Homo sapiens: one gene and its partners. The protein of the gene in region 3 purifies or fractionates together with the protein of the main gene of each other region. This does not show direct contact. Each region holds a gene or a part of one and is shown on either strand. Other genes may lie near its edges.

Region 1 (7,274 bases), on a different chromosome or scaffold from region 3:
TGCTACATTCTCACTAAAATGACAGATTAAAAAGCCCAAAAATACCAAATGTTTAGGAGATGTACAGAAACTGGAACTCTTGTACATTGGTGGTGGAAATTTTAAATGGTCCATTTTGGAAAACAGTTTGGCAGTTTCTCATAAAGACGTAAATGGGAGCTTTCTTTACAATAACACAAAACTGGAAAAAACACAAATGTCTTAAAAGACACAAATTTTTTATCCCCCCCTTTTGGGGATAAAACCAAAAAGGAATGATCTAGAAATACACACAAAGACATAGATGACTTTTAAAAACATGCTGAAGGCAGATACACAAAAAAATACGTTCTATGATTCTATTTATATCGAATTTTAGAACAGGCAAAACTTATCTAAAGACGTAGTTCTCAACTGGGGCAATTATGCCCTCCCCTTCCCTGGGCAATGCTGGAGACATTTTTGGTGGTCATAACTGGGGTGGCATAGGTATGGGGGTGGTTGCTAAAGGCATCTGGTGGGTAGAGGTCAGGGATGCTGTTAAACATTTTATAATACACAGGCCAGCAGCCACGGCAAAGCATTACCAGGCCCAAAATGTTGAAAGTACCCAGGCCCAGGTTGAGAAATTCTGTTCTAAGTGATCAGTGGTGGTCTAGATGGAAGTAAGGATATTGAATGAAGGAATTCTGGGGATAATAAAAATGTTCTGTATTTTATTTTATTTACTTTTATTTATTTATTTATTTTTGAGATGGAGTCTTGCTCTGTCGCCCAGGCTGGACTGCAGTGGTGGGATCTCGGCTCACTGTAACCTCTGCCTCCTGGGTTCAAGCAATTCTCCTGCCTCAGTCTCCCGTGTAGCTGGGATTACAGGTGCCCACCACCACGCCTAGCTAATTTTTGTATTTTTAGTAGAGAAGGGGTTTCACCATGTTGGCCAGGCTGGTCTCGAAATCCTGACCTCGTGATCTGGCTGCCTCATCCTCCCAAAGTGTTGGGATTACGGGCGTGAGCCACTGCACCCTGCCGATGTTCTGTATTTTAATTGTGGTAGTGACTGATTTGTCAAAACTCACCAAACTGCACACACTTAAAACGTGTAAATTTTACTGTATGCAAATTTTACATCCAAGTTGATGCTAAAAAGTATAGTGCCTGTATAAGACTATGTTAAACAGTTTAATCCATTTTTTGTTTTTTAAAACACATGCACAGAAAAGACAGGTAAGGCAACTACCATTAAAGACAGGAAAAGCAAATACCATTGGTGGGATTATGGATAATTTTGAATTTTTTGTCCTGTTGTTCATTTGCTTAGTATTAAGTAAAAATTTAATAAACTTGATGTGTACACACACACATAGAGACAAACACAAACACTTATATATCCAGTACCTAAAACAGGTACAAATAAATGAGGATAATAGAAAAGCACAGGTGCACATGAATATTTAATTGTGATATTTGATCATAAGACTCTAGTTATTTCAAGAAAGTATAAAAATGTATAATGCAAAGGCACTTAGAAGTAAGGTTTTACTCTAAAACACTGCTAAACTATTTAATGAGCTCAATTATAATTCTTTCAATACAAAAAGTTTGCAAGGAGGAATTTTCACTAGAAACAATGCTATGATAGCCCTAATAAGACAGGGTGAAAAGGTCAAGAAATTCTTTAAAATTAAATGAATAAAGTTACCAACTAAGGAATAATCCATTTCACTGTATTAATACGGTTGAAAACACAGCAGATACAATTCAGTTATGTTCATCAACAGCCAGGGACTGAGCAAAGTGTGAGAAATTTATTATAAAAATGTCTCTGAAGAACTGACCAATGGAGAAAAATGGTATTGTCAACAATCACATACAAACGGGCTAAAGGCTATGATGGAGGTTTGAAAGTGTTAACAATGAAAGAAACCAAGCAACTACCTAAGCCTGGAGGAAGCATGTACAAAGGTGACATCTTAGCTAGACCTTGTCTGGTGAAAAATCATGAGATAATTTAGAAATCTTAGAAATAACACAAAAACCAAAAAAAAAAAACAACAAAAAAAAAAAACAAAAAAAGACCCACCACCACACATAACAATTTTGTTACACTACTGTCTCATTTTATAGTCTTAAAGGTCAGCAATGAGAAAATCTTTTCCCGAAAAAGAAGATTATCCTACATATTGGGTAAGGAAATTATAACTACTGAGAAAATCCCATATCCAAGGGGGAAATATATTTAAGATTCACCTTGATAGAAAATGCACTCCCTAAGCTTCCACCACGTCTACGTTTGGCAATTTAAGTCTCTGGCACTATTCAAAAGCATAGTGATTAAAAAAAAATCAATTAGGCTGCAGTTTAAAAATTCTATATGAATACTTGTTAATATAGAATTAATATATGGCCTCATACTAAAACATCTCCATACATTAGTAAGGGAATATTTAAGATACCTCCCAAAAGGGAGACACTGGGAATCCTACATACAGTACACTACATCTTTGACAGTAAGTTTTCAAGCCATAAGAGATGCTTACGAATATATGGGGTAAACGATTACTCTATGCTGCTAAAAATCATTCCAAGGTAAAAAGGTCAATTCCTATCTAATGCAAAGAGAAAAGCCTGCAAGGTGGTGGGATGGTGAGACAGACTGCTGGTAGAACCTGTCTGCCTTGCTCCTTGGATTTCCTGTAATTTTGGACATTACTTAAATTAAGGCATTGAAACTGAATTACATCAACTTTATCTCAACAGAACAAATTTTGTGCAGCAGAAAACCCAATTTTGGCGGTGAAAAAGTCGTCCCAAAGACAAAGGGTCTTAAGTACATCTGACTTTTCGGAGACAGCAGCAGTGTGTCCTATTCTTTCTCTCCTGGCTCAGACTCAAAGAACTACTGCAGGCAATTCAGGTAACACTATTTCCTGGTAGTGTGATTCAGGTAACTGGAGAAAAAGGAAAATGCTTAAAGCAATAAACTAGTATAAAAGGGAACCTTCTGGAGTCCCGTAATAGCCAGTGAACTAGAAACTCTTGATATTTTATAGATACTGACACCAGTAGGGGAGCCAGGAGCCAAGTGCAACACCAGCCAAGGGTTGGAAGCAGGCAGAGAGAACAGTCATTGCCTGATCCTCTTGCTTCCACCGCAAAAGAGCGCCCCCACCCCAATACTCTCGTTCCTTAAAATGTCCCTATCGGGACCCACGCAGAAATACCCCCTCTCCCCTACAGTAACTCCGTACAATCCCAAATACCCTGCCGGAGTGTGACAGGCTGCGTCCACTTACTGAGCTGTCCCCCGCCCGACGCTGTACTCGGTTCCCGACCTCCAGCGCCCCCAACGCCGGCTGCTCCAGGGACCCCTGGCGCCCCCATCCCCGGCGGGGTTCCACTTTGCCTCTCGAAGTTGCCTGGATTGGAGAAGTAGTCGCGCAGCCGAGGCAGCTCCCGGCCACTCTCTAACAGCTCGGTATGCAGCTCCAGGGCGGTCAGCAAGTATTGATCGCGCAACAGCTGAGCAGCGATCGCATCAATTGATAATCGGGCCGGGGTCTCCCCGGTGCCCCCCAGGGCCACTGCAGCCGCCGACGCCTCCCCAGGGAGCCCTGGCCGCGCACTGCTTCCTAAGGCCACGGGATCCTGTGGCGACAGCGAGCCCGCAGAGCCAGGATCTAGGCCACTTCCGGCGCCCAGCCGAAGTACTGCCCGCCGTTCCTCTGTTGCAGCTACCTCGTCATCGTCCTCATCCGAATCACTGAGAAATGGATTCACGCCGCCACCACTGCCACTACCTCCAGGCGCCATCGCCGCCATCTTATCCTGTCAGGAGTGTGGGCGCCTCCCTGACTGGTTCCGACGGGCCGCAGCCCGAATCCTCTAGGCCTCAGGGGACACAGCGCACCTCCACAGCCCCGGCCTGACCACGTCCTGCCTCCCGACTTAGAGACAAGGAGTACGCTCCAAGGCAGGAGATCCGGATGCAGCTGCACCTGATGCCTCAGCCTCTGCTGCACCAGCAGCCCGGCTCTGCAGGCGTCTTCCTGGTCTCCAGTCTCGCGAGAACTGGAGCGTGCCCCTGCCCCTCTCCCCGATCTAGCCCCGCCCCAGCCCCGCCCCAGCCCACTTCAGCTCCGCCCATTCCCAGCGCCAGATAGCAAAGATTGAAGGCCCCGCTCTCCGCTCAAAAGCAAAACTCCACCCACGACTCCTCCATGATTGGTCAGAGAAGGAAGGCGTGGAGCGGACTGACGGGAGACTGGCCCGAGAATTATCGCGATAGCAGCAGCGGCCGGGCAGGTATTGGGGGCGTTCCGGAATTGAGGGGTGGTTGTAGTGGTGGCTTAGGAATACCCTCCCGGCTATCGCTTCAGTGGGTAGAGGGGACCACTGCCCGAGAGCTTTAATGGAGCTGGGTCCTGCCTTCGCGCTGAGGAGCCCTCGTTTTCGAGATCAGGCCTGACCGGGATAAGCTCCAGGTAAAGTTCAGGGACCAGTGCGCGGAGGGTGTCGGCGCCCAAACTGTGGTGTCGCGCCCGCGGACGCGCTGTTTCCCTACTGCGCTGCACTTTTTCTCGCTATTTGCTGCCAGTGGTGACATTTTGTCCCCATGGATAGCAAGTGCCCAGGCCTGTAGTCGGAATGTGACTTCCTTTCTTTTCCCTTCTCTGCCACATGCTTGCACACTCGGGAGGCCTAGCGACAGCACGACTTCTCAGCCCCGGAGGTGGTCCTGCCTGTGGGTGGGGACGGGGGCTGGAGAGACTAAACGGAAAAGGGAACGCTGAGGTTGGCATTTGCCTGGATCTGGGAACATCGTCGAGTTGGAAAACAAATTGTTAGGTACTCAATAAACGCTTAGGATTTAATACACGATTTACACAACAGGGACCCTTCAGAATATCTAATGCTGTCTCACCAGTAGACAGATAAGTAAACTTAAGCCAAGAGTGGTTGTTATAAAATCAGCTCCACGCCGGGCGCGGTGGCTCACGCCTGTAATCCCAGCACTTTGGGAGGCCGAGCCGGGCGGATCACGAGGTCGGGAGTTCGAGACCAGCCTGACCAACATGGTGAAACCCCTTCTCTACTAAAAACACAAAAATTAGTTGGGCGTGGTGGCGCAAGCCTGCAATCCCAGCTACTCAGGAGGCTGAGGCAGGAGAATCGCTTGAACCCCGGAGGCGAAGATTGCAGTGAGCCGAGGTCGCGCCACTGCACTCCAGCCTGGGCGACAGAACGAGACTCCGTCTCAAAAAAAAAAAAAAAAAAAAAAAAAAATCAATTCCGCTAATAAGGAGTCAAAGGAATTAACATCATTTCTCTTATGTCCCAAACGATTCTTTATCCACTGTCTCCTGCAACATTTCTGACTCGTTCATGCAGGCTAGAATCAAGGTTTTGGAACTTAGAACTATTTTAAAAGTTGAATGCTTCAGAGAGTTTTGATTTTTTTGATGAAATGTTAGCATATAAAGTACATATCCTAAGTTTAGAAGATCAACGTTTATCTTTTATGTCATTCCTTGATTATGATCTGAAAAGGTAAAGGAATTTCCAGTCAATACAATTAGACTGCTATTTCTTATGGCTCCTATTTTTTTCACACACAAATGACCACTTTTCCAGGCTTTAGATTTCCTTTCTTAGTGTACAGGTAAGTGACATATTACATTCAGTGTGTAGTAAACATTCCACAGTAAAGTATCTCCCGTTAGCTCCATGGAAAAATTAAAATAGACGATTCTTACATAACCTTAGGTCAGGTTATTGGTTTACATGTAAAAGTATGCCAACAGTTAAGAGTAGGCTTTAATTTCAATATACCCAGGCTCAATAAACTAAAATTTTCATTTGAATGGGGATTTGGGTTTTTAAAATTTTATTTTTGCTAGAAGTTTAAAAAAAAAGTACCAAGAATTTAAACTATTTTTTTATAGGACATTAGTTCCCAATGTTTTAATGATAAATAGTTTTCTGTGCCATATATTAAAAGTAAAACATGGGGAAAAAAATCCCCCCAAATAGAATTGAAATGGCAAATACTGTATCCTGTTAGAGATTTCTTAGCAAAAGGGATTGCTGATCCGTATTTTAGTTGGATTTTCCAGAGAGATTAAAATGGAACCAATTTCTGGAATCCAGGAATGGAGGATTAGTGAATGGCATGGGAAGGGCATGATTAGAAATGGATTGTTTATATACAATATTTCCATCTCCATGATTGGGAAATTGAGAAATCTCCTGCATTTAGGATTCCTGAAGAGGATTATGCTTATAAGATAGAAAAGCTTAAGTTCAGATCCCAATTCTACTCATTATTTATTGTGAGACCTTGAAAAAGTTACCTAACTTCTCAGCCTCACTTGCATTCGTCTATCAAAGGGGATAAGGAAAGTACACAGAATTGAGAATGTTCTTGTCCCAGTGCCTGGTACCTGCTACACAATAACTATTACTGTGGTCACTTATTAATTATTGAAATATTAGTATGTGTTGAGAACATTTGACAAGTGTTTAAAAATAAAACTAATATCAATCGTTTTGGCAGTGCAAGCCTGAAAAAGCAATTAAGTCAGTAGGGCTGAAGGGAGTATCTTTAATTTGGGGTCTCAGTTCTAAAACACAAGTTGAAAATAGATTTAAAATGTTTCCTCAGAGTTGTAAGAACTTGCATGTAGAGGAATTCTTCCCATACAAATCTGTGGTTTTCTGCTTCTATTTCTGCCTCCTATCCTATAACCATGAACTTGTGTGTTTGATCTTGTAAGCCCATTAGAAATCAACTGCCCAGTCTTCCCAGTATGTACTTTTCTTTTCCACAATACACAGAGGTTTGGTTATTCGTGAATAATGTATAAGTAACACACACTGGAATATTAAAAATTACCGATCACTACTTATAATAATGTATTATTAATAGTGTTGGGAAATTTCCTTTCTACTTAGTAAGATTTTCATTAATCTAGGCCCTTACAACTAATGTTTCATCTGACTAATGATAGTTATTAAAGCTTGTGCCTTAGCAATGAAGATGTAAAAGATGCCTTTTTTCAAAGCACGTCAATCATTTTAGTATTTAAAAAATTATTTTAGGTTTTAATAGTCTTAAAAGAACCACAAGTAATATTCTGAATGCAAGTTTTGGTTGACTTGAGGTTTTAGTAATACCTCATGTTTTATTGTTTTTCAGTGTGTGGTAAACATCCACAGATAAACTAGATAACTTGTATTGGTACATGCATATATCTTTTTAAAATTTTAATAGTTATGTGTTTGTTTTGGAGGTA
Region 2 (6,835 bases), on a different chromosome or scaffold from region 3:
GCTTTGTAGTTAAAAAGTGAAAACTACAGCCTAAATGAAAGGAAGGGAGAATAAAAGGAAAATCGTTATTTTTTTCAGCTTTCATTATACAAAAGATGTTGCCCCAATTTACCAATGAAAAGACACTGAGGGCCACAGTGGCCCTCTGAGACCCTCTTTCCAGGGTCACATAGCTGAAATATGTGGCCAAAACAGTATCTTTCCCAAGGCTTGTAACTGTAGGCCCTTGTACTACACTGTGCTATACCTGGTAGAAAAGAATATAGATATACAAACTAAAAAACATCACTTATTTTAAAACTTGTTATTTCATGAAATGGCAGACCATAATGATTTGGTGTGGACATTAAACAAAAAGAGTTTATATGCCTCATTAAGATAATTTTCTGGAGCTCTGAATCCATGGTTTATACATAATGGGTTCAGTATATTTTGTTTAGCCACAAAATCACTATTGTTAAATCTTTAATTACTGAAATATGAAGTTACGCAATTTATTTTTGAAGTCTGCGTATGCTACTCACCAAATTTTTGTTGTTTAAAAAATATTGTTTTGCAATTTTCAAAATACATTAGCCTCATAGTGCATATAGCAATCTTAAGACTTTATCAACCTCTGATTTCTAAACACACATCCAATATTCATCACTTTCCTCTGCTGAAATTATTTCCCACTGGTGGAGTACTTTTTTTCTTTCTAGTGCGATGACATGCTACGGCACACCATCTTATTGTTTGTGAAATCAATACTTAAGTTGATTCAGGAAAAGTGTATGAAACGAATTTCAAACATCTTTTAGGGGCAATTCACTACAATTGCCCCTAAAACCAGTTATAAGATAAAACCAGGATTTGGATAACAATGATGGACAATATTGTCATTGTCATCCAAATCTTGGTTTTATCTTATAACTTAATTCAGAATGTTATTTGATGCCTATTTAATGGCTAGGGTTGCTATGTTTCTTAAATACTCATATTGTTTTTCTAACGGTAATACCATAAATCTAAGCCTGTATTTTTCTTTTTACAACTGATATAAAGTGCATTATGATATTTTAACTATTTATCTTCCTCTGAGAACTGCTGGTTCTTCTATGCTGCATAAATATCTCTTAAGGTAATTTGTAACCTAGTATTTTGAAGATTCCAAATACACATTTGAAAATACTATTTTCCTGGATTCTAACTAAGTTGCAATACGTTGAATTAACTCAAAGAAAACAACTCTCCATATGCAATAAGCTATTTGATTATATGATTATCAACACCTATACAAGGGAAGAATAGCGTTAACTGAAAAAATTATTTTTACTAATGGTTGTTTTTTAAATGCTTTTTTGTATGTTGACTTCAATATGGGTTTGTTTGAAATTGTGTAGTTTCACATGTCAGATATAATAAAGCAGCTTCAGTGAAAAGATTCAACCGACGAGAAGCTACAAGTTCCTCAACTTGCCCACATTCGCATTCCCACATTTCCAATTTGTTCCCCCGCTTCTTTAGGCAGTACCTAGCCTCGGCACGGCTGCTTCCTCTTCTTTTTTTTTTTTTTTTTGGCACGGCTGCTTCCTCTTCTTCTTTTCTTTTTTTTTTTTTTTTTTTTTTTTTTTTTTTTTTTTTTTTTTTTGGGACGGAGTCTCACTCTGTCGCCCGGGCTGGAGTCCAGCGACGCGATCTCGGTTCGGTTCACTGCAACCTCCGCCTCCCGGATTCAAGCCATTCTCCTGCCTCAGCCTCCCGAGTAGCTGGGAATACAGGCGCCCGCCATTACGCCCGGCTAATATTTGTATCTTTAGTAGACACGGGGTTTCACTATGTTGGCCAGGCTGGTCTGGAACTCCTGACCTCGTGATTCGCCCCCTTCGGCCTCCCAAACTGCTGGGATTACAGGCGTGAGCCACCGTGCCGGGCCCTCTCTCTTCTATTTAAAAGGATAGGCACAGCCTTTGGAACTGAATGTCTTTCCTCAGGCCTCATAATAGAAAATGAGGAAAGTCCATTCTGACAACTGGCTGCCTTAGGCAACAGAATTTGGGATTCCTACCCTTCCAGCTCCTGTTGAGTCAAAGGCAAAGGCAATAACCCAATAAATGTGGTGAGACAGTAAATGGAAACTGACATAAAAATAGCAATAAAAGCCTACTTCCTTCTTGACAATCAATACATAATGGAATGGGTATGATTTTACACCATAAAACATCAGAGAATAATAGAATATGGGCTGAAGAAAGCTCAGAAGCCACAACATTTTCCCCACCTTTTGATTTTCAAAACGATTCTTAAGATTTGTCGGGAGTATTTGTTTTCAATTGTTTCAGTGAGGCTCAGTTTTGACCACATGCAACCAAAATAGAGAATTTCATGGAGGATGGTCACAGGATTGGCTTAGAAAAATGTAATCCTGTGAGCTGTCCCCTTTCATAAATAATAAGGTTCCGACGGCTGCACCGAATGTTCCTCCTTTCAACGAGGTTGGGCCGAGGTTGGGCTCCCAGCTGCTGGGACATTTTTAGTCCATCTTGGACTCTCACCTCTGCCTCCTGCTCAGCTGTCAGAATGCCAGGCGGCTCTGCAGCCCAAAGCCCACTCCGTTTTAAACTTGCTCGTTTGCAATCACGTAACCCGCTACTGACGACAGAACCCTCAAGGCCCATTTATATGCGGTTCTCAAGTTTAGGTCTAGGGAAGTTTCCAGGAAGCTTAGTGTTCGGGGAGGAATTCGTTTTGCTTTTGCTAATCAAAGAGACACAAAAGCACAGCTGAGTCCCGAAGCTGGCACACGGGAAATCGAGGTACCACTGTCCCCTCACCGGAGCGCGCAACAATCACTTGGGGAGCGGGGAAAAGGTTTCCACCTTCCCCGAGCCTGGGGCACCTTCGCTCCCACCGCCCCAGCTGGTGGTGGTCTCGACACCACGCTCGTTGCGGGGTCACACGCCAGAGCTGGAAAGGGGAGGTCCAGCCCCAAGTAAAGCGACAAAGTAAGGACACAGTGGTGGCCAAGGGCTGTCTCCTAACCCCAGTCCCGAAAGACAGTGTGGAAAGTCCGCCGGCGCGCCAGCCCTTGAAACTCTGCCGGTCCGGCCGCGGCCCCTCCCCTGCGCGTCCCCACCTGTTGTGAAGCTGCCCAAGCTCCTTCTTGCCCAAATGCTTTGGAAACTGCCAAAGGACACTCAGAGGCCAGGGAATGTAACAGGCAAGCATAAATATGCAGAAGAGATGGAACCAAAATAGCGGGCAGGCAGGGCCGGCGCTCGTGGGGGTCGGTGATCTGGAGCCGGGCCCCCGCCGCCGCGGCCGCGCCAGCAGTGCCAAGACCTGGCGGGCGGCGCCGGCGCACTCCGGGCACCGAGTCTGCAAAAGAGGCCCTGAGCGGACCGCCGGACACCTCGCAGACTGCGGGCAGCGGTGGTGGCGGCCGCCTCTCCGGGGCTCCACGGCCGACCCGCCGCCCGCCGCCGCCATCCCCGGCCCGCTCCTGCCGGGTCCCCGACTCGAGCCCCGGAGGCGCCCGCTCTGCGGGACCGCGCAGCCCGGCTGCATGGAGCCCGGCGCGGTGCCCCGGCCGGCCGAGCCAGCCACGGCGCGAGAAACCGTCGCCCGCCACGGCGAGGGCAGGAAGAAGATGGCGGCTACCGTGGCGGCGGCGGCGGCGGCAGCGGCCTCACACGCGTCGCTGACGCCAATGGCTCGCGCCGGTCGGCGGGCCGCGGATGGCGGCGGCGGCGGCGGCGGCTCGGGCTCCGGCGAGGGGCGGGGCGAGGCGGGGAGGGGGCCGGCCGGAGGCAGAGGCTGGAGGGAGGCGGCGGGGACAGTTTGTTGTGCTCGGAACATGGCGGGCGTCGGCGACGCGGCCGCTCCGGGAGAAGGCGGCGGTGGCGGCGTGGACGGCCCGCAGCGGGACGGCCGCGGCGAGGCGGAGCAGCCGGGCGGCAGCGGCGGACAGGGGCCCCCGCCGGCGCCTCAGCTCACAGAGACGCTGGGCTTCTACGAGAGCGACCGGCGGCGGGAGAGGCGCCGGGGCCGCACAGGTGAGGCGGGCGGCGCTAGGCCGTGGCGGGCTCCGAGGGGCGGACTGGGGACCGAGGGCGGCGGGGGCGCCTTGGAACCCCGGCCCCCGAGCCGCGCGGCTGCCGTTGCCTCCCGGGGCTCCCCAGGCTGTGGGCGCGCGGAGCCGCCGAGGCTGCCGAGGCTCCGCGGCCGTTGACAGTTCCTCGGGCGGGTTGCGCGCGCAGCCCCGAGGCCCCCGCGGCCGCGCCAGGCCAGGTGTGCCCTAGAAGGGGTCTGCGGCCGGGAAAGTTCTGTCCGGGTCCTTGCATCGCCCTCGGAAGGTCTTAGGTTAGCGGGCATCTCCCACGTCTCGGAGCCCAAACGTGAGAAGCACACGGCTGATTTCTTAATTATATTCATGCCAAGGTGACTTTTTTTGTTCTGTATTTTAAGCAAACTTGAGCCATAGAAACCTGTTAACTTGCCCTGCAAGTAGATTTTTCACAGACAGCTGACGGTGTGGTAGTGACCATGAAGTTCAGTAGTTTTGCCCAGTACAGAAATATTTAACACTCCATAAAATGTTGCATCTGAACTTTTCCTGAACTGAAACTTATGCCAAAAAAATTACTAGATGAGAAAATGTGTACTTATGAATCCTACATTCAATGACCAGTTTTAAACGTATTGTTACAATGTTACAGTTTCTATAAGCTGTAGGTTTTTATTCTCATTTTAAAAGAATTTTTAAAACTTGCATTTGTATTCATATTGCAGTTACAGATTAGTTTTAAATGAAAAAAGGTTTTGAGATGGATGTCTTCTTGAATATAGAGTGAACCCAACGTTTTAATTCTCAAGCTGTAAACAGCAACTGAACCATAACTCCATTAAATTTCTTCCAACTAAAAAATTACTTCTGTTGTCCAAAAGGGGCTGTGTTAGCCGTTATTTCCTGAAGTTCATGCAAATAACTAAGTTGTGAGGCTGATTACATCATTGATTGTACTTGAGTACTGAAATTTTAAAACTACTTAAGGGGCATAAAGTTGATCAGATGCGATTCTAATTGATTTGCTGATTCCCAGAACTGGACGTAGGTTCTATTTGAAGCAGTCTATATTTTTGGAAAATTACAGACGGTCTTGTTTGGTCTTTTTCAATTAACCACTTAAAAATTCTCAACCATACTTTATTTGGTTTAGTTCTCAGTTAAACATTTGCTTTCAAGAGTATTTACTTTCTTCATTGGCAGGATCTCAGTAAGACAAAATAGCAAATCTCTCAACTGTCTGTTTACTTACTTAGACTTGAATATTAAAAGCACTCTGTTGTAAATAGAGATAGATGTAGCCAGGCTTCACTATACTTTCTTTAAAACATTTCTCAGTTGCAGGAAAGCCACCATTTTAAAAGCCTTTTTTTGTTGTTTGCGTGGAGAGGAAATGAAGTTGTTTGAAGCCTATTGATGAGCACAGATCTTGAGCTTGCAGTATCACTTAACACTTCTTCCCTGGCTTTTTCTGGGACTGGATACCTGGACTTCCATGGACTTCATTATACCACGTATCCATTCTTCACCAACATGGTTCACCATGTTTAAGGCTGGATTTTTTTTAACCCATAGTTGCAGGAAGTCATTATCAGGGAGATGCCTCCAGGTTTAGCTGTTGGGGTAGTCCTTGTTCTTTCCCCAGTTCCATTGATTTTGTGTGAGGAGATGTCAGTGGCCACTCCTGCTTTACCAAGTCACACTAGCCTTGGCGATCAGGATTTAGGTGAGAATTCCAAATTCCAGGAGTATTTCAGCTGGAGCCACTGGCCAGTGTTCTCTCTGAGCCTCCACATAAGCCCCTCCTTCTTTTCCCCTGGTGTCCCTGCTCTGCTAGTCACATAGCTCCTGCCACTGCTAGCACCCAGTCTGTAGCTCCGATAACCATATTTGTTAGAGGTTTCCCCACTAGAAACAATTATTTTAGTCCTTCTTCAATGCCCAGGCTGCTAAGTCTAGCGCTGCCCTCTTCCCCTGCTCTGTAATCCTTCCTTCCCCTCCTTTTAAGAATTTTTAAAAACGATTCCCTAGGAGCTGGCCTGGGTCAGAGGGCCTTTGAGTGGCAGCACCTGGAGTCATTTGGATAGCATTTCTCCCTGAATCAAACTAGTCCTCCACGGCTAGATGCTCGGACTTAAGGTATTACTTGTTGATTTTTTTATATTCTTGTGTGCCTCTGAGAGTCTAGCACCACTGCCCTTGAGATCTAGATCCCCCTGCAAGTTAAGGCAACCTTTGGCTTTTCTTTTTGAAAGTCATAATCTTAGTGTCTTGGTGGCTGAACCATCAGTCAGTTCCAAAGTTCCCTTTATCATTTCTCACAAGGAATTTAGGGCTCCTACAGGTAAGACATTTGTTGATCAGTCCCAACAGCCTAGAATTCCCTAAATGAATGTACATATTAGGTACTTATCCAAACTCTTTCCATCTGAATAAAATAAAACGTGGTGTCTGAGGTTCATTTTTTGTTTTATATCTCTCCTTGTTGATTTATATGTTTAGAAACTAGATATGTATATTTGTCTGTATGAATAGCTGTATATGCTCTATATTGTATTATACTAAACATGTGTCTCCATTAAGTCTAAGCTTTCTTTTCCTCATCACTTCGTTCTCAGAACTCCCGTTCTGACTTATATTTAGCCTGGCAATAGGCTGACGCATGTCTCAGATGCGAGTACTTACACCTTTTAACATAGTTAGAATTGGGAATCCCACTCATCATTCCTGTTTTTATTTGCTCTCTCAGAATGGTCATTGTGTATTTCCTTGTTGCATATGTGGTTACTG
Region 3 (7,809 bases):
CTATCCTTTCCATCTGGAATTGCTTTGTCATGTTTACTGAAGATCAGTTGACTGTAGATGTGTAGGTGTATATCTGGGCTAACTTGTCTAATTTGGTGATCTGTCTGCTAATACCTATGCCGATACCACAGTCTTGATTACTGTAGTTTAATTAAAGTTTTGAAATCAGGTAATGTAAGTCTTCCTACTTTTTCAAAATCATTTTGGTTGTTTCATATAGATTTTAGGATCAGTTTGTCAATTTCTACAAATCTCTAGGATTTTTTTAGGAGTTGTATCTATAGATCAATTTGGACAGAATTGCCATCATAACAATATTGTCTTTCAATCCAGAACATAGTATGTCTCTCCACTGATTTTCATCTGTCTTGATTTCTTTCAGCCGTGTTTTTTATGTTTTAGTGTATAAAACTTGAACTTCTTTTGTTGAATTGAGTCTTAGATATTTTATTATTTTTGATGCTACTGTGAATAGAAGTTTTTTTTGATTTTTGGTAGCATATATAAATATAGTCTGTTTTCTGCATAGTGACCTTCTATCTGGCAACCTTCCAAAACTCACTTATTATCTCTGGTAGTTTTTGTTGTTGTTTTTGTTAATTTTTAAATTATTAAAAAAATTTTTTGGCCGGGTGCAGTGACTCATGCCTGTAATCCTAGCAGTTTGGGAGGCCAAGGCGGGTGGATCACCTGAGGTCGGGAGTTTGAGACCAGCCTGACCAATATGGAGAAACCCTGTCTCTACTAAAAATACAAAATTAGGCAGGCGTGCTGGCGCATGCCTGTAGTCCCAGCTACTCGGGAGGCTGAGGCAGGAGAATAGCTTGCACCCGGGAGGCAGAGGTTGCGGTGAGCCGAGGTTGCGCCATTGCACTCTAGCCTGGGCAACAAGAGTGAAACTCTGTCTCGAGGAAAAAGAAAAGAGAAAAAAAAATTGCCAGTACATAGTAGGTGTATATATTTATGGAATAAATGAGTTTCTTTTTGTTTTTGTTTTTTGAGACAGAGTCTTGCTCTGTTGCCGAGGCTGGTGTGCAGTGGCAGGATCTCGGCTTATTGCAACTTCCACCCAACCGGGATTCTTTTTTTTTTTTTTAAGAATCGGAGTCTCACTCTGTTGCCCAGCCTAGAGTGCAGTGGCCTGATCTTGGCTCACTACAACCTCTGCCTCCCGGGTTTAAGCAATTCTCCTGCTTCAGCCTCCCGTGTAGCAGGGACTACAGGCACATGCCGCCATGCCTGGCTAATTTCTATTGTATTTTAGTAGAGACGGGGTTTCATCGTGTTGCCCAGGCTGGTCTCGTGAGCTCAGGCAATTCACCAGCCTCAGCATCCCAAAGTGCTAGGATTGCAGGACTGAGTCACCGCACCCGGCCACCCCCCGGGTTTTAAGTGATTCTCCTGCCTCATCCTTCTGGGTAGCAGGGATTACAAGCATGGGCCACCATGCCCGGCTAATTATTGTATTTTTTAGTAGAGATGGGGTTTCACCATGTTGGTCAGGCTGGTCTCGAACTCCTGGCCTCAAGTGATCTGCTCACCTTGGCCTCCTAAACTGCTGGGATTACAGGGTTGAGCCACCGCGCCTGGCCCAGAGATGTTTGGATACAGGCATGCAATGTGAAATAAGCATATCAGGGAGATTGGAGTATCCATCCGCTCGAGAATTTATCCTTGATTTACAAGTAATCCAATTACATTCTCTTTTTTTTTTTTTTTTTTGAGATGGAATTTCGCTCTTGTTGCCCAGGCTGGAGTGCAATGGCGTGATCTCGGCTCACCACAACCTCCGCCTTTCGGTTTCAAGCGATTCTCCTGCCTCAGCCTCCTGAGTAGCTGGGATTACAGGCATGCAGCCACTATGCCCAGCTAATTTTGTATTTTTAGTAGAGACGGGGTTTTTCCATGTTGGTCAGGCTGGTCTTGAATTCCTGACCTCAGGTGATCAGTACGCCTCGGCCTCCCAAAGTGCTGGGATTACAGGCATGAGCCACTGCGCCCGGCCGACTAGTTTTAAAAAAATTTTGTTAGCAGTGTGAACTCATAGATGTTAACATATGCAGTGTATTTCAGTCTATTGAAATTTTTCATTTTTATGCTCAAATCATCCCATCTTTGGCAAGTAGGAGCCAGTTTGGTTCCTCAGTCATTCTAAATGACCGTAGTACCCTGGTATTCTTTTATTTATTTATTTACTTATATATTTAAGTTTTGCATTTTGATATAAGATGTCCCAGACTCACAGAAAGGCCTTTTGAGATAGCAAGACAAATTTGGCGGATTTAATTTCAGCCAAAGGAAGAGAATAATGTCAGCTTTTCTTTCCTCACCCCCAGAAATTTGATAGAAACCAGGACAATTGTGAAGGCAGTTTTCTCACTGAAAAGAAGTGCACGTTGGTGGTGAGACAGTTAAATAAGGATTCTAACCTGTGGACTACATTTGTTGTCATTAGAGGGGGTATATACAGTATTTATTCAAAGACGCTCAAGCCTGTAATCCCAGCCCTTTGGGAGGCCGAGGCGGGAGGACTGCTTGAGCCCAGGAGTTTGAAATCAAACTGGGTCAAACAGTGAGACCTCATCTCTAGAAAAAAATTTAAAAACGGGGTGGGAAGATCGCTTGAGCCCAAGGGGTTGTGGCTGCAATGAGCCATAACTGAGCAATTGCACCTGGGTGACAGCGAGACTGTGCCTAAAAAAAAAAAAAAATTGAAAGACAATTCTAACATCCAATTCTAACATCTAATTCTAACATCTGTAAGCGTATCTGTCCCAAACACAGAGCTAAAGTAAAAACACAGGAAGGGGCCGGGCGCAGTGGCTCATGCCTGTAATCCCAACACTTTGGGAGGCCAAGGCGGGTGGATCACCTGAGGTCAGGAGTTTGAGACCAGTCTGACCAACATGGTGAAACCCCATCTCTACTAAAAATATAAAATTAGTCGGGCGTGGTGGCGCATGCCTGTAATCCCAGCTACTTGGGAGGCTGAGATAGGAGAATTGCTTGAACCCGGGGAGGTGGAGATTGCAGTGAGCCAAGATCGCGCCATTGCACTCCAGCCTGGGCAACAAGAGCGAAACTCTTGTCTCAAAAAATAAAAAAATCAAACAAACACACATACAGGAAAGGAAAGGAGATAATAAAAAGGAAGGAGTAGTAACCACAGGGCATCCATGTTGGAGTATCCAGATCAGCTTCCTTTTCATTAGTCATAAATCCTTTTGGTGCTCTGTCCTGTTGGCTTTTCATGCACCTTCAAATCATGTATGGGGGTATGAGAAAGATAGTTTAAAAAGGAAAGGTTTGTTGTTCCACTGTTAGGGGTGAGGGAGGTACTTAGCGAAATGATGACTAGTAATAAGCTCTAGAACTGTGGGCTCTTTTATCCATGTCCATTGTTTCATATTCTTCTGGACCCACAAGATGGCACTTGAGGATCTACAACAGCAAAACCATACCAACGTATTTAGAATAAAAGAATCATCCACAGGGACAGATTAATGATGCATCTTTCTGGCCTAACAGTGTCTTTTTGATGGGCATAGAGATAAGGGGACTATGGCCACACCATCAGAATTGTATTATTCAATTAATAATGCCTACCACTTTGAAATGCTTCCTGTGCCCCAGGACACTGTGCTCATCACTTTACATCTCATTTCATCTATAAGACTCTATATAACGTCATTTCCACTTTACAGCTGAAGAAACTTAACTTTAAGTTACATAACCTGCTGACTGTGAACTATCACATGTGCTGAAGTTGGGATTCACCAAGCGGCCAAAAAGCACAGGTTCCCCTTACCATTGCTATGTTAACCAATAGACTGATGTATTTTAAATCAGTTTCTATTTTTTCAACCTCATAAGTTTGAAAAGCTGCACTCTGCACTGATTTAGCACTGACTGGTGGCTGCTTAAAGCTTGCCTTATTCCATTTTAGCAGGCCCCCCGGCAAAATACCCCAATTAGTGGTGTCATCCTCTCTATTCCAAGAATTTTCTCTTAAGACTCCCGCTCTGTGCGTTTGCTTGGGAATGCAGAGCCCTGTTCCTCATCTCCCCATCTATGCTTTCTTCATTCTAAGCCCTTTCCTATCTACTTTATGCTCGAGGTGGCTCCACCTCCACCATGAGCCAGAGCCAATGATGCTCACGGCCCCAACCATGATTAAAAAGAGATTGCCCTGCAAGGTAAATCAGTTAAAACCAACCTCTCCTGCCCTGAGTGGATAGGTAGGGTTAGGGTTGCCAGATGTCACGAAGTTACAGGATGCTCAGTTTTAAGGTATATCCCTTATACTATAAGGGTTATAGTAAAAAATATTCATTATGTGAAATTCAAATATAACTGGGTATCAGGTATTCTATGTGGCAACCCTAGGTAGGGGAGCACAGGTTAGGCAAGCGATTAGAAGATTTGCAGCCTCCAAAGTTTCTGCACCTCGATGGGACACTAGAACAGGAAGGCTCCTGGGCCTTTCTGGCTCTGGGAATGAAGCGTGGAAAACCCTCCTTAGGCGGGCGCAGTGCTTCAAGTAGCCAAGCTCTGACTTCCGAGGGAAGAAAGGAGGCCATGGGCCTCTGCCAGAGCCATGCTCTGCACTCTGGGGTCAGCAGAGTTCAAAACGACCTGCAACGTCTGGCGCTTAGCTCCTAAAGAGGTCTCCAGTCCAGCGCCGACGGCCAGCGGCTAGAGGCCGTCCGCCCGACTCCAAGATGGCGCCCGCCACAGCTGCCAGGTGTTAAGATGGCGGCGCGGGGCCGCGCCCGCGCTCCCAGGCTCTCCTCCCCCAGCCTTCCTCCGGCTGGCAGCACGACTCGCGTAGCCGTGCGCCGATTGCCTCTCGGCCTGGGCAATGGTCCCGGCTGCCGGTCGACGACCGCCCCGCGTCATGCGGCTCCTCGGCTGGTGGCAAGTATTGCTGTGGGTGCTGGGACTTCCCGTCCGCGGCGTGGAGGGTGAGTGTGGGCCGGGGGCGGTGCATGAGATGATGGGGCGAGCTGAGGTCCACCCGGGCGACGCTCTGGACCTGCGCGAAGGCCGGCGGTGCGCGACTCGCCCCTTCTTGGCGTCTCCCCGGGCGCGTCTCCCCGACTTCTCTCCCCGCGCACCGCCCGCTGGTGGCCCGCGAAAGGGGGCCGGTGGGCTGAGGGCCGGTGGACGGGAGCCCGGGGGTGGTTGGGCCGCGTTCAGGCCGCCCTCAGCCCGTGGCTGGTAGCCAGGAGGGACAGTGCGGTAAGCGCTGCTGAGGCATACCCTCTGGTGATAAGCAATTTATTATTAATAACATTATATCAAATACCGACATTGTTGTGGCCGTATTAGGAGCCAGGAACTGTGCATCGTGCTTTATTTACATCATTATCCCATTTAATGCTCCCACAAACCCTGTCAGATCGGTTCCGTTTAGTGTCTCCATTTCACAGATGAAGATGCTCAGGCCCCGCCTAAGTTTGCGCTTCTGATACGTGGCAGAAGCCTGTCTCTCTGACGCCAAAGCCCAGTCTGGAGTCCACGCTGCTGGACCACTGTCTTAAGGAGGCCAGTCTTGCTCAGCTCCCTGCATGAAAAACAGACGAGAAACACGGGAGACTCCCGGTAACCCCCAACTTGCCGGTAGGGAAGGCAGCCACTCTAGAGGCATGGCGAGGGTGGAGAGTGGAGGCCTTACTTTCATGCTCCTTCACCCCACTCCTCATAGTCCTGTTAAAGTCCAGACCCTCGGTCTCGCTTGTCATTTAGACCTTAACAGGAATAGGCAGGTCTTTCTTTTCCCTGGGGTGTCCTGGATGGAGGCAGGACAGCAGAGAGTTGTGGAGAAGGGTGAGTCATAGTAACACAATTACCATGAATGAAAGCGCTCACTGTGTACCAGATGCTGTGCTCAGTGCTTTACGAGCATCATCTTTTGGAATCTTTACTGTTTTGTTTTTGTTTTTTTAAGGGATGAGGGCTTGCTCTGTTGCCCAGGCGGGAGTGCAGTGGCCCATCATGGCTCCCTGCAGCCTTGAACTCCTGGGCTTAAGTGATCCTCCCACCTGTTTCCCAAAGTGCTGGGATTACAGATGTGAGCCACTGCTCCCGGTTTATGTAATTTTTATTTTTATTTTTTTTTGAGATGGAGTCTCGCTCTGTTGCCCAGGCTGGAGTGCAGTGGCGCGATCTTGGCTCACTGCAACCTCTGACTCCCGGGTTCAAGCGATTCTCGTGCCTCAGCCTCCTGAGTAGCTGGGATTACAGGTGCCTGCCACCACACTGGGCTAATTTTTGTATTTTTAGTAGAGATGATGGTCCACCATGTTGGCCACGCTGGTCTGGAACTCCTGACCTCAGGTGATCCACCCACCTCGGCCTCCCAGAGTGCTGGGATTACAGGCTTGAGCCACCGTGCCTGGCCTTAGTAATTTTTAAATGCATATGCAGTAGATGTTATCATGCTCATTTTATAGAAGTAACTTAAGACTCAGAGCCAATAAGTCCTTTGACAAGGTCATACAGCCAGAAGTTGAGGAGCCTTGATTCAAGCCCATGTCTGCCTGACTTCAGAGCCCAACCTCTGCATTTTCACTATACTTAACTGCTAGCCTCACAGAGGGGATGGCATGGGTTGGATATCTTCTGTTTCAGCCCCTCCACCGTGCTCTGTGCCCTGTGTGGCTGTCCTGTGTGGAATAAATACCAGCTGTCCTACCGTCTTGCTTCCATTGTGTTGGAATGAGGGGAGAGTGAGGTCAGGGTATTGATTCTCTCCGCTCCCTCCCTGAGAAGTTATTGAAGGCTGGCTTTGCCCCCGGTGGAAAGCATTGAATTCTAGAAAGCTGCCCTCTGTGTTACCCTTGATGTTTCAAGGTTCTGTGACTACTTCTCTCTCCAGACTCTTAAGGTCTATGAGTGGTAACTGGCTCCTCCTCTACTGTTACTGGCCTTGGAATTCCTTACCATTGCTTTTCATTTCTCTGCACCCAGCCTACACATTAGTGGTCCCTTCATTAAACTCTCCTCAACTTGCCCAAGTTAAATGTGCTGTTTCCTGGCAGAACCCTGGCTGATTCAGGGTTCAGCTTGGGTCTTTGGTCATCATGGCCAGGCCATGAATGGGGTGAAGACAGAAGAAACTTCACCAGCTGATTTCTTCTCAGAGTAGCTGAAAATCTGAGGTGTTTTTTTTTTTTTTTTTTCTGCAGAGGATGCCACTGGCAGATTATGCTGGCCTCAGGTGCTGAGGCCCTGAGAGACTAAGCAACCTGGAGGTAGCAATGCTATCCAGGTGTCTAGGAATGGAAGCAAACTCCTGGCTTCAATACCCCTATGCCACTCTTCCCTAGGCAGTCAGCTAGCAAATTCTTACTGAGCACTCATCATATGCTAAACACTGTGCTGAGCACTGGGGATCCAGTGGTGAGTTAGAGCAGCAGGCCTTTGGGGAAGGCAGCCACTAAATAACTACAAATTACTAAGAAAATTGCAAGACTGAGAAATGCATCAAGGAGAGTCCCAGGGCGTTTTTGGGAACTGTAATGGGAGACCTCCCACCCTGGTCTGAGGGTCAGGGAATGTGTCCTTACAGAGGTGACATTTAGGGTGAGATCTGAATGAGGAGGATGAAGGATTTGGCAGGAGGAAGCTTCCCAGCAGAGAAACAGCCCTCAGGAAGGCTCTAAGGCAGGTGGGGATAGGAGGAGTGTAAATGATCAGGGACTAGAGGGATCTGATGGCCACAGGTGAGAGTGCAGACAGAGGCCACATTGGGGCCTGGTAGCTCTGCTACAGAATGCAGATGCATTCACAGGGTAGGGGAAGCCA
Region 4 (7,024 bases), on a different chromosome or scaffold from region 3:
TTTATAAAGAAGAAAAGAAAGAGTTATTATCAATATACTGAAGATTAAGGGTTTTTAGGTATATGTGGGAGTGTGTGTATACAATGAATTCCCTTACAGAACTGCACCATTTATAGAGAATAGTTTTCTAAAAATCTAAGGGGCATCCTACAAAACACCTCACCAGTAGTCTTTGAAACAATCAAGGTCATAAAAAATAAACAAAGTGAGAAACAATCACAGACCCCTGATTAGATGTACTATATCCTGGATTGGATCCTGGAACAGAAAAGAGACATTAGAGAAAAAAACTGGTGAAAGCCAAAGAAAGTCTGGAATTTAGTCAATAGTAATATTTTTCTTTCTTTTTTTAAAAAATTGAGACAGAGTTTCACTCTGTCATCCAGGCTAGAGTGTAGTGGCGTGATCTCAGCTCACTGCAACCTCCGCTGCCCAGGTTCAAGTGATTCTTGTGCCTCAGCCTCCCGAGTAGCTGGGACTACAGGTGCACGCCACCACGCCCGGCTAATTTTTTTGTATTTTTTTTTTAGTAGAGACGGGGTTTTGCCATGTTGGCCAGGCTGGTCTTAAACTCCTGACCTCAGGTGATCTGCCAGCCTCGGCCTCCCAAAGTGCTGGGATTACAGGCGTGAGCCACCATGCATGGCCAAGTCAATAGTAATATTTCGATGTTGGTTTCTTAGTTTTGACAAATGCATTAGGGTATGTAATCTGGTAATCACAGAAGAAACTAGATGAGGGGTATACAGGAACTCTCCACTCTATCTTTCCAACTTTTCTGTTTATACAAAATTATTCCAAAATAAAAATTCTATGGGAGATTGCCTCACATACGGGAGTATCAGGTTAATTTTCATTTTCAAATTTTACATGTCTGTAATAATACCACAACTGCTTGGCTAACTTTGAGAGTAAAACTGATTGGTACACTTAGTCCTGCTTATAGAATAAATGCATACAGGAATAACATCCCCAACTATTTTAGTATGTCATTTCTAAAACTGGGCTAAACCTCTGGAGAATTCAAGAGGAGCATGGAGATCAGTACACTGGAAGGCCAAAGGTCTGCTTGGTGGGAAATTATGTACACAAAAAGATGGTTCTTCTTTATTCCCTGAGGCATCTCTAGCACTGCCTCCTCTCTTTCCAAATTTAACATGCCACAAGGCAAGAGGAGAAGCCAAACAGATTGTAATAGTTTTGTCCAGCCCTAAGTCTTAGATCCTGGAACACCTGTTTAGTAAAGGTAGGATCTGCAAGCCAAAGCAAGGAATTCTCTTGGGAAGTTAATGTGAATGAAGAGGGAACTTTATGCAAGCTCTCAGAAATGTGAGCACTACTTTTTAAATATTACTATCTTACACAGTAAGATGTATAGGTTTCTCAGATAATCTCTAATTATATGATTTCTAAAACATATGCCCTCTTTTTTTTTATTATTATTTGGCTGCTCCTTGAGAACAGGACTAACTCATAGGCAGTGAGCCCAGAGTAGTGCATATGTCCTTTAAAAAAAAATTTACACTATATGTCTTAGAACCCTCTGAGGAATGTGACAGTGGTTCTCCAAATTTCTGATTTTAGCAATTAAGCAAATTTCAACATGTATTTGAAGACTGGGAGAATATGCCACGCCAAAATATGCTACTTTGGCATAAAGATTATTTTGGGCTAAGGTTCTTTAAAAAGTAAGTGCAAGCTTTGGGAGGCCGAGGTGGGCGGACCACGAGGTCGGGAGTTCAAGACCAGCCTGGCCAACATGGGGAAACCCTGTCTCTACTAAAACTACAAAAATTAGCCGGGCACGGTGGCGGGTGCCTGTAATCCCAGCTACTGGGGAGGCTGAGGCAGGAGAATTGCTTGAACCCGGGAGGCGGAGGTTGCAGTGAGCTGAGATCATGCCACTGCACTCCAGCCTGGGTGACACAGCAAGACTCCATCTCAAAAAAAAACAAACAAAAAAAAGTAAGTGCAAGAAGGGCACTCTGATCTTCCCTTTTTCTTCCAGAAAGCAGAAGATAAAACTCCCATATGAAATACGTCCTCCCTGTACCAGAAGGAAAGTAACATTCTTATTATCAAGAATGGAAAGCTGAAACTGAGAGAATTCTATAAACAGACCTTATTAAAATAATTCTTATCTTCCTTTAGCCTCTCCACCTAGTTTACTTTTCCACAATTGCCTCTCTTTGTTCAATCAAGCAAAAAGCATTTAGGTTTTGCCACTTCTTTGTATTTTTAGTAGAAGTTAGGTCTTCATTTCCTTATGAGGGCTCCTGTGTCACATAAAACTTATTCAGGTATTAAAGAAATCTACATGCTTTTCTCCTGTTAAATTATAAGTTTAATTCTCAAGCTCAGCCAAGAAACCCTAAGAGGGTAGAATTTTGCCTCCTCTACATATGTAATCATGCCATTTTATTTCTTGTTTTTAAGAAAACTCACCATTAATTCTTGCATATGAATATTACAGAAGCCACCCTCTTTCACCCCATCTATTTAGCCCAGCTATTTGCAAGGGAAGTATCTTACATCTTTGTGGCCTCCAAAAAGAAGGAGATTTGCCGCTTTATATAAGGCTGCCTCAGGATGCTCCTCACAGACGGCCTTTCTTCAGGCCTTTTGCTCAGCATTGTTCTTATCAGTTCTGCCAGCTCTGGGCTGTAATCTCTTGGCATTGGTGGCAGCTACAAATAAAAATAATATTGTAATTATGACTAATGGTCTTGTGAAACAAAGTAAAAGCTGGTAGAGGTTTCCCAATATTTATTTATAGTCATATGTCCACATAAGCAGAAAACAATCAGTATATTAGTCTACAGGAAGTGTACTGGTATCCCAGTTGTAAGATAACAAGTTGTAAAATTATAAAAGTATATCCTCCAACCCAGCAGTCCCATCTGATGACACTCTCATTCAGAAATAAGAGTATGAGTTTCCTAAAGACTTATGTATCGGGATGTTCAATGCAGTACTGTTCTTGCAGTAGTAAACAATTGGAAACATAAATGTCCCTTAGGGGATTTGTGGAATAAATTATCATGCATTCTTCTTATAAAAACTAGGGCCAGTCGCAGTGGCTTACGCCTGTAATCCCAGCACTTTGGGAGGCCGAGGCAGGTGGATTGCCTGAGGTCAGGAGTTTGAGACCAGTCTGGCCAACATGGTGAAACCCCGTCTCTACTAAAAATACAAAAAAATTAGCTGGGCGTGGTGGCATGCACCTGTAATCCCAGTTACTCAGGAGGCTGAGGCAGGGGAATTGCTTGAACCAGAGAGGTGGAGGTTGCGGTGAGCCGAGATCACGCCACAGCACTCCAGCCTGGCAACAGAGCGAGACTCTGTCTCAAAAAAAAAAAAAAAGAAAGAAAAGAAACGAAACTAGGCAGCAGGTTAAAAAATACAAGACTTGGGCCGGGTGCAGTGGCTCACACCTGTAATCTCAGCACCTTGGGAGGCCGAGGCGGGTGGATCATGAGGTCAGGAGATGGAGACCATCCTGGCTAACACAGTGAAACCCCATCTCTACTAAAAATACAAAAAAGTGGACGGGCGTGGTGGCGGGCACCTGTAGTCCCAGCTACTTGGGAGGCCGAGGCAGGAGAATGGCGTGAACCCGAGAGGCAGAGGTTGCAGTGAGCTGAGATTGCACCACTGCACTCCAGTCTGGGCAACAGAGTGAGACTCTGTCTCAAAAAAAAAAAAACTTGCAGGTACCGACTTGGAAGGATGTGTTCCTCATATATTAAGTCAAAAAAACAAGTTATGTACCATGTGAACAGCCTGATTTCAGTTTAAGAATCTGTGGGTGTGCGCGTGCGCATGCACACACACACACATGCACACACACACACACACACACACACACAGAGTTATGTCTGTATAAAGACAGGAAAAAACCAGAAAGGCCATGTACCAATTTGCTAGCAATGGTCATCTTCCAGGGAATGGGAATAGAAAGAGAAGAGAATTTCACTCCCTTCTTGTTTGATTCTTAAGTAGTGGCATTATGGGAAAATTTTACTTTTGTGTGTGTTTTTCAATATGCTTCAAATTGAAAAATTAAATAAGTTGTGGGATAGTATTAAAATCAATAGATGATTTATGGCCTTTAAAACTTAACAGTACATTGGCCAGGTGCAGTGGCTCACACCTGTAATCCCAGCATTTTGGGAGGCTGAGGCGGGCGGATCACCTGAGGTAAGGAGTTCGAGACCATCCTGGCCAACATGGTGAAACCCCGTCTGTACTAAAAATACAAAAATTAGCTGGGCCTGGCAGCATGTGCCTGTAATCCCAGCTACTTGGTAAGCTAAGGCACAAGAATCACTTGAACCTAGGAGGTAGAGGTTGCTGTGAGCTGAGATCATGCCATTGCACTCCAGCCTGGGAGACAAGAGCAAAACTCCATCTCAAAAAAAAAAAAACAAAAAAAAAAACCTTAATGATACATGGATGCCTGAATCTATAAAGGGCAACTAGCCTCATGGAACATACAAAGCCAGTCACTCTGGAGTCTATATCAGACACAATGCTTTCTGTGATTCTTAACTAGTTACTGATTGTTGTGATGATTATCAAAGGAACGACAAGTTCAAACAGAGTAAACTCATTTTAAATGTAGCTCATTGAATCATAGGCTGCTTAGAAGAAGAGACAAATAGCCTCTCAGGGCATCGGCACATCCTATGACTATAGGCATAGGTTTTCAAAAAGCCAATTCTTTTGAGCCATTAAGCTGGCTTACAGATTAATATTAAGAAATGATCCATCAATCCCTTTTCCTCTAGTCTGACCTTCCCCACAGAAGGGACCCACCATTGTTAACTATCAACCCAATCTCAATAATTACTCATTGACTCATCAAAATCATCAATGATTTTGCTAGTAGCTATTTATAAAGCTGCACTATAGAAATACTGGTCAATTAGTTCTAGATTATTCTTTACCTTTCCTTCAATAATCCGATAAACTAAAGAATTCATATCTTTTGCATTGAAAGCATGCTTCAAGGTGGCCATTTCATAGACACAGCATCCTAGAGCCCAAACATCAGACTAGAAAATAAAAACAGTAAACGGTTAAATGTCAGAATAGCTTATTTACATTTTTTTCCCTTTAAAAAAAGAAAACATTTTCCTTAAACCAATTCATAGATAATTCTCTGACTTAATTAACTTCTGAAATTACAAGCACTCTCCCAGAGACAAGGTAAGCCAGCATACAGAGCCCAATCCTACCTTATAGTTGTAGGGTTTGTTTGAGAACAATTCAGGGCTCATGTAGTAGGGTGTGCCAATGAGGGTGCTAGCCATGTCACAGTGGTTCTCTAACACTCGGGCAATTCCTAGGTCCCCTACTTTGATGATGTTTGTTCTTGTTAGGAAGACATTTTGAGTTTTCAGATCTCGATGAAGGATGTGTTTTTCATGTAAATACTGAGGAAAGAAACAAGATTTTATTACATATAAATAGACTTAATTATGTATTTATTCCTGGCTTATTATATACCATCAGCAATGGCATGAGTTAGAGTCTTTGACCGTAAAGAGTAACCAACCATACAATTCCTTATTCAACAAGCAAATACCTACCAAACATTATTGCTTTATAATCTCTAAATAAAAGGTCTAATTTACAATTTTTGAAATGAGAAAATTAAGTTCCATGTGTTGACTTACCCAGTACCCATCAAAACTGTTCCCTGGTAGCTTGACAATTATACCATTTTGGCATTACATGAATCCAGTTTAAAAATATGTTTACAAGCCGGGCGCAGTGGCTCACGCCTGTAATCCCAGCACTTTGGGAGGCCGAGGCGGGTGGATCATGAGGTCAGGAGATCGAGACCATCCTGGCTAACAAGGTGAAACCCCGTCTCTACTAAAAATACAAAAAATTAGCCGGGCGCAGTGGCGGGCGCCTGTAGTCCCAGCTACTCGGGACGCTGAGGCAGGAGAATGGCGTGAACCCGGGAAGCGGAGCTTGCAGTGAGCCAAGATTGCGCCACTGCAGTCCGTAGTCCGGCCTGGGCGACAGAGCGAGACTCCGTCTCAAAAAAAAAAAAAATATGTTTACAGGCCAGGCGCAGTGTTCAGCAGTTTGGGAGGCCGAGGTGAGCGGATCACTTGAGGCCAGGAGTTCAAGACCAGCCTGGGCAACATGGCAAAACCCCATCTCTACTAAAAAAATACAAAAATTAGCTGGGCATGGTGACGCACGCCTATAATCCCAGCTACTTGGGAGGCTGAGGCACAAGAATCACTTGAACCCAGGAGGTGGAGGTTGGAATGAGCCACGATTGTGCCACTGCACTCGAATCTGGGCGACAGTGACACTCTGTCTTAAAAAAAAAACAATGCTTACAAACTCCACTGATGGTAGGACAACTTATACAAAGTCAGACGCACAGTCCTCTCAGACCCATGAAATCCTCAGCTTAATAATATTTTCAAGTACAGCAAGAGCATTTTTATTTAGAGAAAGTATCTCAGCCGGGCGTGGTGGCTCACGCCTATAATCCCAGCACTTTGGGAGGCCGAGGCAGGTGGATCACCTGAGGTCAAGAGTTCGAGACCAGCCTGGCCAACATGGTAAAACCCCATCTCTACTAAAAATACAAAAAAAAAAATTAGCCAGGTATGGTGGCAGGCGCCTGTAATCCCAGCTACTTGGGAGGCTGAGGCAGGAGAATCGCTTGAACCTGGGAGGTGGAGGTTGCAGTGAGCCGAGATCGTGCCATTGCACTCCAGCCTAGATAACAAAAACAAAACTCCGTCTCAAAAGAAAAAAAAAAAAAGAGAGAAAGTATCTCAGAATTTAAACATGGTCAATTAATTCTGGACAAGTCTACCCAGTTCCAAAATAGTATTTCATAAACGTCTCGCTTTTGAGTTATATGCATATTAAAACACAAACTTGTAGGAACACTTATTCCATCTTAAGGAATGATGTGCTGCCCAATTCTAAAAAATAAAAAAAAGAAAACTTGTTTTGCATTCCCATCTACTGTACCCCAGCAGAC

The links.
Region 1: the proteins of TXNDC15 (region 3) and PIGN purify together in Homo sapiens (affinity purification with mass spectrometry; 3 studies listed by BioGRID and IntAct, with this or other methods). This does not show direct contact.
Region 2: the proteins of TXNDC15 (region 3) and TAPT1 purify together in Homo sapiens (affinity purification with mass spectrometry; 3 studies listed by BioGRID and IntAct, with this or other methods). This does not show direct contact.
Region 4: the proteins of TXNDC15 (region 3) and NEK4 purify together in Homo sapiens (affinity purification with mass spectrometry; 3 studies listed by BioGRID and IntAct, with this or other methods). This does not show direct contact.

Annotation. Positions count from the first base shown.
Region 1 is NC_000018.10:62,184,033-62,191,306, reverse strand, and holds the start of PIGN (GPI ethanolamine phosphate transferase 1), read left to right. Parts: upstream 1-4,250; 5' UTR 4,251-4,463; intron 4,464-7,274. Other genes in the region: RAB11-binding protein RELCH, read right to left, coding at 3,276-3,801.
Region 2 is NC_000004.12:16,223,458-16,230,292, reverse strand, and holds the start of TAPT1 (transmembrane anterior posterior transformation protein 1 homolog), read left to right. Parts: upstream 1-3,821; 5' UTR 3,822-3,835; coding exon 3,836-4,034; intron 4,035-6,835. UniProt on the Homo sapiens protein: Plays a role in primary cilia formation. May act as a downstream effector of HOXC8 possibly by transducing or transmitting extracellular information required for axial skeletal patterning during development. May be involved in cartilage and bone development.
Region 3 is NC_000005.10:134,869,567-134,877,375, forward strand, and holds the start of TXNDC15 (thioredoxin domain-containing protein 15 isoform 1 precursor), read left to right. Parts: upstream 1-4,804; 5' UTR 4,805-4,861; coding exon 4,862-4,964; intron 4,965-5,264; exon of another isoform or gene 5,265-5,566; intron 5,567-5,677; exon of another isoform or gene 5,678-5,832; intron 5,833-7,809. UniProt on the Homo sapiens protein: Acts as a positive regulator of ciliary hedgehog signaling. Involved in ciliogenesis.
Region 4 is NC_000003.12:52,760,938-52,767,961, forward strand, and holds part of NEK4 (serine/threonine-protein kinase Nek4), read right to left. Parts: intron 5,439-7,024; coding exon 5,241-5,438; intron 5,058-5,240; coding exon 4,950-5,057; intron 2,688-4,949; coding exon 2,533-2,687; intron 1-2,532. UniProt on the Homo sapiens protein: Protein kinase that seems to act exclusively upon threonine residues. Required for normal entry into proliferative arrest after a limited number of cell divisions, also called replicative senescence.